Homo sapiens: one gene and its partners. The protein of the gene in region 1 purifies or fractionates together with the protein of each later gene. This does not show direct contact. Each region holds a gene or a part of one and is shown on either strand. Other genes may lie near its edges. The genes, in order: RGS3, SEPTIN8 and ZKSCAN8.

Region 1 (2,906 bases):
TTAAGATGCCTCAGCTTACCCCTACAGGACTTTAAAGATGGGCGTGCTGGGAGCTGAGTACAATGCCCGTCCCCGACAGCCAGGAGCCCTGGGATGTGGCCCCAGCCCTGCCACTGCCTCTTTCAGGGTCTCAGTGGGGTCTCCCCCTCTCTATGCCTCAGTGTCTTCATCTGTGAAATGGGGACTATCGATTCTGTCTCCCGGAGCCCTGGGAGGAGCCGATGGGACCCTGCCCATGAGATGGCAGGCACATTTGGCGCCGTGAAAGCCCTCAGTACGTAGAAATGTTTATTCTTATTCTGGGAATATGGATCTGAGCACACAGGTCCCACGGGCCTCCGGCAGGCAGTGCCAGCTCACATGGACGGGGAGGGGCTGGCAGAAGCTGGCTCCAAGGCCAGACCAAGGGCCTCAGCTTGGGCTCAGCCCCTCCGCAACAGCAAGGACACCCTGACGGCCGAGGAGAGGGAAGGCGGCCTCTCTAGCACCAGCTACACAGGGTCTGGATGGGGGCGAAGGGGAGAGGGAGAGAGGGCACAGGGAGTGGGCAGGCAGGCCCAACTTACATTTGTGAACCAGCAGCTTCTCCAAGGACTCGCCCCACTTGAGGGCTTCCTCTGAGGTGGGCCTGAGGGGTGAGGGAGGAAACACAGTGAGGGCACTGAGAGGCTTGGGAACCTTGGGGGAAGCTGGGCCAGGCGGCCTTTGTTTACTGCCCTGGGCCCAGTCTGCAGCTGAGCCCAGCTGGGGCGCCCAGGAAGGAGGCCCACCCTCTTTCCCGGGGCCAGGGTCCCTTCCAGCCCCCATCTCCACCCCACCTAGCCTTCCCCCTAGGGCAGCTGCTCCCTGTGAGGGTAGCTGCTTGCCAGGTACCCAGCTCCCTCTGTGAAAGCCTGTCTCCCCCAGAGCTGGATCAAGCCGGCAAGCCCCTTCCCCTCAACCCTACCACTCAGTCCTACTCCCCGGGGAGCCAGTGAGTTCCCCAAAGGGTCCCAGGGTGCCAGGGAGGACCTACTTGAATGACTTCATCATTTTGTCTGCCTTGCCCGCGGGAGGGGCTCCAGGGGACTCATTCCGCCGTCTGAAGATCCCCAGCTTGTTCTTCATGTCCTTGGCTCTGGGGACAGAAGCAGAAAAGAGGGTTGCTCAGCCTGGCCCACTCGCCCCTGCAAATCCAGAGTCGGGAGAGCTGGGTCGAGGGCACCTACTCCTTCATCGTGTGTCGCCTCTGCAGGTTCCCGTTGCGAGTGAGGTACATGCCTCGGAGCATCTCTGTAGGGCCCCCCACCTTGGGGCCGCAGATTGGTCTGTAGGAGGCACCACTCTGGCTCCTGTCCCCCACCCCGCGTCCTGGGCAGCGGGCAGCAACGGTGCAGGCTGCAGCCACACACGCTCTCTGGAATCCTGGCCTGATGACTGGACTCCCAGGCACAAGCCGGGGCTGGGACTCAGACAGGAGGAGCCAGGAAATGGGAGGGACCAGGAGGGGGAGCGGAAAAAAAAATTCCTTCTGGCCAACCCTGAGAGGGAGCCGTGAAAGGGGCATGTGTCTGCAAGGGACAGCCTCTGGGGCCGCCCCGGCAGGAAGCCAGTCCCAGCTATTTGTGACTGGCCTCCTCGTTACCATGGCAGCAGGGAGACAGTGGTGGGGGGTGGGGGACAAGTCAGCAAATTGCTGAAAGGGAAGGAGGGAGCCAGGGGAGGCACTGCCCACCACCGGGGTGGCAGGACTGGCTATTTTTAGCCAAGAACCATTTTTAGCCTTGCCGGTCCCCAAGGAGGCAGCAGAATTCAGCACTGGGTGAAACTGCTGGCAAGAAAGGAGTTAAATGCCTCTTGCTCATGTTCGCCCCTCTTTTCCCTAGACCCCCTGTACAGGGCACCTCCCAGAGAATGGCTCCTGCCAGCCGGCCTCTCAGCCTCAGTCACCTGCATTGGCGACATCCAGTCATGAATATACAGCAGGACCCCAACATCTTAGTAGTTTTAAGCCTGAATAACTTCAGAAGTACAAGTCCTATAAACTTACAAAAACACCATTTTAAAGTTTAATTATTTAATGTTGTGTGCATGGTTTTGTGATTTTCGAATAATAAATGTTTCACTTTAAGTTTTGGTCTCCATCCTCCCAAAGATGGAAAATGCTGACTCAAACCAAAAATGAAAATGAAAAATTGATTATTCAAAAATCACATAACTAAAGACGTGCAAAAGAAATTTAATAATTAAACTTTCAAGGGGGTTTGGTAAGTTTGAAGCATTTATACTTCTGATGCTATTCAAGCTTAAAATGGCACTAAGACCTAGACACCCTGTCTAATGAAGGAGAGTCCTGCAGGGGAGGCTGATCCCAGGCTCTGGAGCTAGTCTTGGGTTCAAATCCCAGCTCCAGCAGTTACCAGCTGTGTGCCCTTTGACACGTTTCCTGATCTCTCAAGTTTCCTATCAAGGTTTTTTCTCTGTCAAGCTGTTTCCTCAAACAGAAGCCAGCAGGCCAGGTCTCCAGGTCCCAACCCCACCACTTTCTTGCCATGTAACTTAGCCTCTTTGCACAGTAGTTTATTCACGTGTAAAATAAGGGTAAGGTCAATAAGAAAGAACAGAACGGAAAATAAAAGTAGTGGTAAAGATTAAATTAGATTACATATGAAATACACACAGAACAGTGCGGGGCATAATAAACATTAATGGTTATTCTTATTATTACCGTAGATGTTCTAAGACTCTTCGTCTAAGCTTTTAAGAGTATGACCTTCAGAGGCCAGGCATGGTGGCTCATGTCTGTAATCCCAGCACTTTGGGAGGCCGAGGCGGGAAGATCACTTGAGGCCAGGAGTTTGAGAACAGCCTGGCCAACATGGCAAAACCCCCATCTCTACTAAAAGTACAAAAAAAATTTGCTGGGT
Region 2 (3,750 bases), on another chromosome or scaffold:
TGTGGAAGGTGTCCATCCCTCCAGCTGAAGCTGGCATAGCAACCAAGGCCCTGCGCTCAGGCTCTACGCCCTTGCCTGAGTCAGTCCCCTCTCTGTGCCCTGGCCACCCCGCAGCTAATACCAAAACTCCTCACAGGAATGGTCCGAGAGCAAACACAGGACCCCAGGGGAAGGCTTGACCAGCCCACAGCATGGCCTCTCAGCTAACCCTCTGAGGACCATCTCTGGACGAGCAGGGATGGAAGCTCTACAGAGAGTGCCATGAACAGGGCAAATGCATCCTCTGCTCCCTTCTTACATAGGGGGCCAGTCCTCACATCCACGTGGACAATAGGTAGCATATATTATTTATTGTGTCCTTACCATGTGCCAGACACAGGGCTAAGTACCTCCCCTGGATTCTCTTGTTGAATCCTCACAATACCCCTATGAGGGAAGAAATATTTCTATCCCATTATACGCATGAGAGCACCAAGGGGTTAAATAACCTGCCCAAGGTCACATGGCCAACAAGGAGTGTCTAGGATTCCTATCAGGCTGTCTGATTCTGGTTTCTCTACATACCTCTCCCACCTGCAACATCAACTGTTAAACCTCTGGCCACAGACAAGACCCAGACATAACTTTCTGGTCAGCTGGGCACAGAAAATGCACACAGACACACATGCAGAGACACCCAGGCACTCACGGGTCTCTTGGCCTCCAGCTAATCAGCAGGTCTGTTAGGATTCAGGCACTGCCCTCCTCCGGTACATAAATTCCAATTTATAATACGGGGCGAAGTGAATCTCTGAGTAGCCCAGCCTCTGAATCTGTTCCTCATGTATTTAAACTTACTTAACTGACATACGACCCCCTCTCCAATGGGAATAAAACACCCGAGTCTAGAAATTATGAAACCAAGAGCTCCTGCTTTAGTCATGCACATTTCCAAAGTAGAATAAGAAATGTATTTTCAGATTAAATGGAAAATTTACATATATAAATTGGGATGACGGTATTTATAGCATTAATTACATAAGTCCTGGCTCCCTTATTTAGCCCCAGAACCAATTCGTTATCGTTCACATATTCAGAATTCCCCCTTCCCTCCAACAGCCCTGGGCCTCCCTCCTCCTCCTCCTCCTTCTCCCCCTCCTCCCCCTTCCAGCCGACCAGGGCCTTACATGCTGGCAAGAGGACACAGCTTCCTTCACTGTCACAGCCTAGCCTCCCAGACACACCCAGATCCAGCCTTAGACAGCAGGGGATGTCCAGATACAACCCCCCAAAGGCCTCCCTCCCGCGAGTGAATTATGAAAGCCTTTAGTAAGTTGGCTGTCGGCAGGCTCAGGCCCAGTGAGACCCCTGCAGGGACCACCAGGGACATCAACCTTCTGAGGACCTGGACTGGAGCCCAAATAAACGCCCACTGGGCTGAGTCTGGAATCCCTCCAGCTCCTGGCGAATGGCTGCCGCAGACCCGACCACTGAGGCCTGACCTGCCTGGAGTCGCACCCAGGATTCCGGCGTGGGGAGCGGGGCAGAGGGGAGCGGGGGAGGAAGGAAAAGCAGGCCAAGGGTCTTCAGGACTCAAGTCTGCAACTGTCCTGGGCTCGTGTGGGAGACTCTCTCGGATCCTGGGGCCTCCATCCTCCCCGGCTGTACCTATCCCGCAGCACCTGTGCGGCTAGGACTCTTCCCCAAGTGTGCAGAAAGAAACACCCTGGGCGATAGGGTCCGGAGTGTCCCGGACCCTCACCTGCGGCCCCGCGGGCGCCACTCTATCTTCGCACCTGCCCGGAGCCAGGCGGGTCTTTGCTCCTTCCCGCGAAAGGGGTTAGCCTTGCCTGCGCCCCAGGAAGCGACCCCGACCAGCCGCCCGGCAAGGCAGGCCGCCCGACGCTCCGGGACCCCCCGATAGCGCGGCCGAGAGCCCGCGCCGGGGTCCTCGAGCTGGCCCGGTGTCGAGGCCCGGCCGTGAGGCGCTGACAGCCCGCTTCGCGCCCCCCGCCAGCTGCAGGGCGGCCCCTCCTGCGCCCCGCGCCTCCCGCGCGCGCCGTGGCCCAGCGGGGCCCTCACCGAGAAGCGCTCCAGGTCGGTGGCCGCCATGGCGAGCTCCGCACCGGGCGGGTGGGCTGGGACGAGCGCAGGGGCAGCGACAGGGACCAGCCGGCTGCGGGACGCGCTCCGCCCGGGCGGCTGCGGCTGAATGGATCCAATATGGCCACTTCCTGGAAACTCCCCTTGGCGGCGGCGGCGGGAGAAGCCGCGGAGCCGCCCCTGCCCCCGCCCGCGGGACCGGCCTCCCCGCCCGGCCCGGCCACGAGCGCAGCCGGAGCCCCGCCGCTTGGACGGCCGGGGGTCTCCGCGGCGAGGCGGGAGGTGCCAGCTGCGGGGACTGCTGGGACTTGTAGTCCGCGCGTTGGGGGACCGGGACGGCAGTGTCGGGGGGCTCGGGGCTGGTGCCCGGCGGGCCTCTGCGTGTCCCCTGGAGCCTGGGGCCGAGCCTAGGTGAGAGTCTCCTGGGTCCGCGCGCTGGAAAGCCTTTCCCGTAAGGGGGAAGTGGGGCACGGCGTGCGCCCTAGAGATCTCCCCCACCAAGCCGTCTCCACCCGCTGGAGCCTGCAAATGTGCTGGGACCACCAACCAGAGTGTGGACAAGCTGCGGGAGACCCGTCGGATCCGGGAGAGGCCGCGGCAGCCTAGTCTGCGGGTGTCTTGGGCCCCACCTGATGCTCCGGCCGGAGCTAAGGCGGGAACCCCGGCGGGACCCGCGCGTCCGGCCAGGCGGCCTTCCCGGGCAAGGGACCAGCCTTCGGCTCCTTGTGCAACCAACGAGCAGGATGCGCAGTTTAGGCTGGGATTCCTGCAATAGAAAAGCGGAGCTCGACGGTCAAGGCGTCAGATTGCAAGTGTCCATCACCCTGCCTGTCCCAAGGGCTTGGGACAACGTCTTAATGGTTCCACCATTGTGCAAAGAGGATGACCACTCCCAGTGCGTGCACGTTCTCTCCGCTAATGTCACTGCTCAAAACGTTCAGAAAATTAACACTTACGCCAGGGTCGGAGGCCTCAGGAGGTTCTGTATCCTTCTCACTGACAATCTATACAAAAGCAGCTCCCAAATCCTCTGAAACCCCGTTTCTTTCTCTTCCCTCTGCCTTTCTCTCTGCTCTTTCTGGGAATGTGGCAAGGTTTGCCCCCTACCCCCCACTGGCCTCATCCCAGGTTGGTCCACCCTCCACACACACCCCTCACCCCAGTATGCTGAGAAGCAACCTGACCTGTTTCTCCTACTCAGAAACTTGTGCTGACTGGAGGTGCCTAAAGACCACGTTCGACTTAGCACACCTGGCTTAAGAGGAGCCCCCTCTCTGCTGTTTGACCTTGTCACCCTGATTTGGCTTTCCCCTCCTCACTCTCCCAGGCAAACTGTAGCTTGTCCCCAAGGTGGACTGACTTCCCGCTGGACCTTCCTGACAATGTTTTCACTTTGCTCCTCTCTCTATGTTGCTGTTTCCCATGCTGTATTAAAGTTATCTACAAGAAATAGAGCAGAGCAGTGGTTAGGGTAGCTGGATCTATGGCAAACCTTCCTGGTGGAATCCTGCTAGCTTTTTAACCTTAGCTAGGCAAGTTACTTAACTATGCCTCCCTTCCCTGGTCCTAAAAATGAGAACAAGTATAGCACCTATGTTACAGGATTAAATAACATAAGTAAAGGGCTTTAAGTTGTACTTAAAATATAATATTAAATAAAATCTCCCT
Region 3 (3,650 bases), on another chromosome or scaffold:
CCTTTCTGGGAACGAGTAGGACTCTGGGAAGTAGACATGGCTGAGAGGAGAAAGGAGCTATGAATGAGACCAGTCCTGTCCTGTGGTTGTGGGAGCTGGCACTCACCCATTCCAAATTATTTTTATTTCAGCAGATATACATGTATGCCAAAGATTTTGCACATGAAGTGCTGATATCTTGGATTCTGGGGCCATATCTATGGCTGCCCCACAAAACATACGCACCCCGATGTCCCTGAAGTCAGACTGAAGTTACACTCAAAAATAGAAAGTATACTGGTTTCCTAACAGGAATCGCTTTTCAATTTCTTCTCTACCATCAAAACTACTTCTGTCTTTGTGGCTGTATACAGTATTTCCTTAGGTCCTAATCTCTTGGCAAACCAAGTATCAGAATCAACCAGTCTCTATTAATTAATTACCTTTCTGAAATGTCTACTATGGCTCCCAGTATTTGCTTTCTATAGATATTAAACGGCTTATTATTAAAATATAGATTACTGTATCTCAGGTAACAAGCTTTAGGACTTTAGACAAGAAGTATTAAGTGTTTTAATGCTTCTTTAGAAATATTAAAAATTCATATTTATAAACTACTCTAAATCACATTAATGAAAAAATATGAAATGCAGGGGAAGATGAGACTGGAACACCTCATTCTGCAATAAAGTAAAAAAATTCTCAAAAAAACAATGGGAAAATGTCAAGAGGATACAAGAGCCAGACTGAAGGGGCCTTCTATGGCCAAATCTGAGATGATTTAGCAAAATAAAGACAGTGGCCGAGCACAGTGGCTCATGGCTGTAATCCCAGCACTTTGGGAGGCTGAAGTGGGCAGATCGCTTGAGGCTAGGAGTTCGAGACCAGCCTGGCCAACACAGTGAAACCTCGTCTCTACAAAAATACAAAAATTAGCCAGGCATGGTGGCGTGCACCTGTAATCCCAGCTACTGGGGAAGCTGAGGATTAAGAATCGCTGGAACCCGGGAGGCAGAAGCTGCAGTGAGCTGAGATCGTGCCACTGTACTCCAGCCTGGATGACAGAGTGAGACTCTGTCTCAAAGACAAAACAAAAACAAAATAAAGACAGTAACAGAATATTTATGGAATAAATACGAATTTGAGTCCATACTGATAAATAAAAAATAATAAAATTGGGAGAAGGGAGCACTCTCCTTTACAATAAAGAAATGTAGAAGGAATGACAGAGTTAGAAAATCACTATTTCATAACCATTCTAGTAATCACTAAGTCAGTCAAGAAGTACCAATGAACACTAAAACTAGTGTTTTAGCAACAAAGTTTAATGAGGACTAAGATATTTAAATACACTCAAGAGTATCTTCCACAAATTACTTATTAGTTACAAAGGGAAAAATAGTAACTATACAATGATTAACCCTGCAAGAATAACCTTAACCAAGTCATCAAAGATAACACCACCAATAATAGGACAAATTCCTGTTGTACCCCTAAGAAGGAGTACAACATCTCTTGTTAAGATTTAGGTCATGTATCCTTGGCAGGGTGAGGTGTTCCTGCCAAATATATATGACCTCAATGTAAACATGATCAAACATCACGCAAATCCAAACTGCAGCCATTCTACAAAATAACACACCTGTACTCTTCAAAAAAAAAGAAAGGTTGAGGAACTATTCCAAAGTAAAGGAGACTAAACAGCCATGACAACTAACCACAAAGTGTGACGCCAGACTAGACTCTGAACCAGAAAGAACATAATTGGGGCAACTGTCAAAATATGAACTATGGCCTAGGTTAGTATTGTAGCAATACTACATTTCTTAATTGTGATAAATTTAGGAATTTATTTATTTAAGTTACCTAAGAAATGCTCGTCTGAGGAAATACATACTGAAATATTTCCAAATAAAGTGGCATGACAATACCAGCATAACCTCAAAAATGTATGTTGTAAATGTACTGTGGTAACAGAAATATGGCACATGTATACATATGTAACTAACCTGCACAATGTGCACATGTACCCTAAAACTTAAAGTATAATAATAAAAGGAAAAAAAATTAAAAAAAAAAAAGTCAAATTATTTAATTTGTTCATGAGTTTACCACTAGAAAGAATAATCTATATTTGAAGCCTAAACATTTAAACACAGACTTTGGGACTGGTCTGTAAACAGGATTTTAGTTCCTGGTTCTTCAGGAACTAGATAGGTATCCCAAATGGACTTTTATTTGTACTTCCCCCCCTTATCATCAATGAAATCTGGCTACTCACCTCTCTCTTGTGACTCTTGGGGCACTGGAGATTTATGTTGGGTTGCCTCAGATTGGAGCTGAGTATTTGGAGGCTCTGGTGCAGATGCTGAATGTACTACCTCCTCCCAGAGTACCCTATGTCCATGTACGCGAGCTGAGACCTGGAAACAACAGACAGTTGGATAATAAGGAATCCCTTTGCGAAATGTAATGAACAATGAAAGAGGACCACGAACACATCTACAGGGATATATGCTTGGGGAAGGAAGCAGCAGAATCTTCCTCACTTCTTAGGGACAGTAAGGAACACGAATACGTAATGAGCACAGAAAGAAAGGCATCATTTTTGCTTAGTACTAAAGGAAAAGATTTCTGCTGATGCCTTCCCTGTTACACAGAACACCAATATTTTGTACTCCTAAGGCAGAGGAAGGAGGAAAACAACAAACTTAAAGCAGTGCTATGCAGTAGAAAAATCTTTTAATAAGGAACTAGAAAGCCTGATTTCTGGTCTCAAATTTACCTTTAATTATTTGGATACCCCTGAAAAATTAACTTAAGCTTCCTATGCATCAAGTTCCCATCTGGCAAACAAGAACAATACAGTCGTAGGGATGTTATGACGACAAAAACAAAATGGATTTATATCCTTTACAAAAGTAAAAAGAACTCTACAAGTCATACTACACTAAAACTATTGTCATCCTTATCCAACAGAAACTGATGCTAAGCATCTGCTCTCCCACTGTGATGCCTATGTCCCTCTACCAAGCTTCCAGGACTCCCACAGTCATAGCACGCATACCTCCTTCTACTTACTGGTCGTCCTAGTATATCAATCTGCCTTTCCAAATCCTCTAATAGGGTCACCACCTCCTCTCCGTTCTCTAGCTGATGTTCCTTAACCAGTGTCTGGAGCTCCTCAGGTAGGATGGTCAAGAACTGCTCCAGCACCAGCAGCTCCAGGATCTGTTCCTTGGTGTTCAAATCTGGCCTCAGCCACTGATGGCAAAGGGCCCGTAGTTGGATCAGAGCTTCTCGGGGTCCTAGTGTCTCCTGGTAGCGTAACTGCCTGAAGCGCAGGCGGAACACTTCTTGGCCAAGAGGGTTACTTTCATGCAGACTAGATTCCTGGTCCCAACCATGATCCTCCTCTACCTTGACGATTACAAGATCCTCTTCAGGAGTCTGGTCTGGTGGGGATGGGGCTGAAGGCTTTCTTGATTCTTCAGCCATTAGAGCCTGAAAAGCTCAGGAAGTTCGTTTCCACTACCTTCTTTATCTTCTTAAGAGAAGACTCTTCTGAGGGCCTCTTTCTAAGGGTACTTCTTCATGAAGAAAATATGATAGTGTTAAGGCAAGTCAAAAGTCATTGTAACTAACTATGGTATCTTAACAAGTTCCTTAGT

What was found.
Region 2: the proteins of RGS3 (region 1) and SEPTIN8 purify together in Homo sapiens (co-immunoprecipitation; 3 studies listed by BioGRID and IntAct, with this or other methods). This does not show direct contact.
Region 3: the proteins of RGS3 (region 1) and ZKSCAN8 purify together in Homo sapiens (co-immunoprecipitation; 3 studies listed by BioGRID and IntAct, with this or other methods). This does not show direct contact.

Annotation. Positions count from the first base shown.
Region 1 is NC_000009.12:113,592,641-113,595,546, reverse strand, and holds part of RGS3 (regulator of G-protein signaling 3), read right to left. Parts: intron 1,419-2,906; exon of another isoform or gene 1,271-1,418; coding exon of another isoform or gene 1,209-1,270; intron 1,118-1,208; coding exon 1,016-1,117; intron 629-1,015; coding exon 567-628; intron 1-566. UniProt on the Homo sapiens protein: Down-regulates signaling from heterotrimeric G-proteins by increasing the GTPase activity of the alpha subunits, thereby driving them into their inactive GDP-bound form.
Region 2 is NC_000005.10:132,775,047-132,778,796, forward strand, and holds the start of SEPTIN8 (septin-8), read right to left. Parts: upstream 2,194-3,750; 5' UTR 2,092-2,193; coding exon 2,062-2,091; intron 1-2,061. UniProt on the Homo sapiens protein: Filament-forming cytoskeletal GTPase. May play a role in platelet secretion. Seems to participate in the process of SNARE complex formation in synaptic vesicles.
Region 3 is NC_000006.12:28,148,235-28,151,884, reverse strand, and holds part of ZKSCAN8 (zinc finger protein with KRAB and SCAN domains 8), read right to left. Parts: intron 3,570-3,650; 5' UTR 3,478-3,569; coding exon 3,061-3,477; exon of another isoform or gene 3,047-3,060; intron 2,403-3,046; coding exon 2,261-2,402; intron 41-2,260; coding exon 1-40. UniProt on the Homo sapiens protein: May be involved in transcriptional regulation.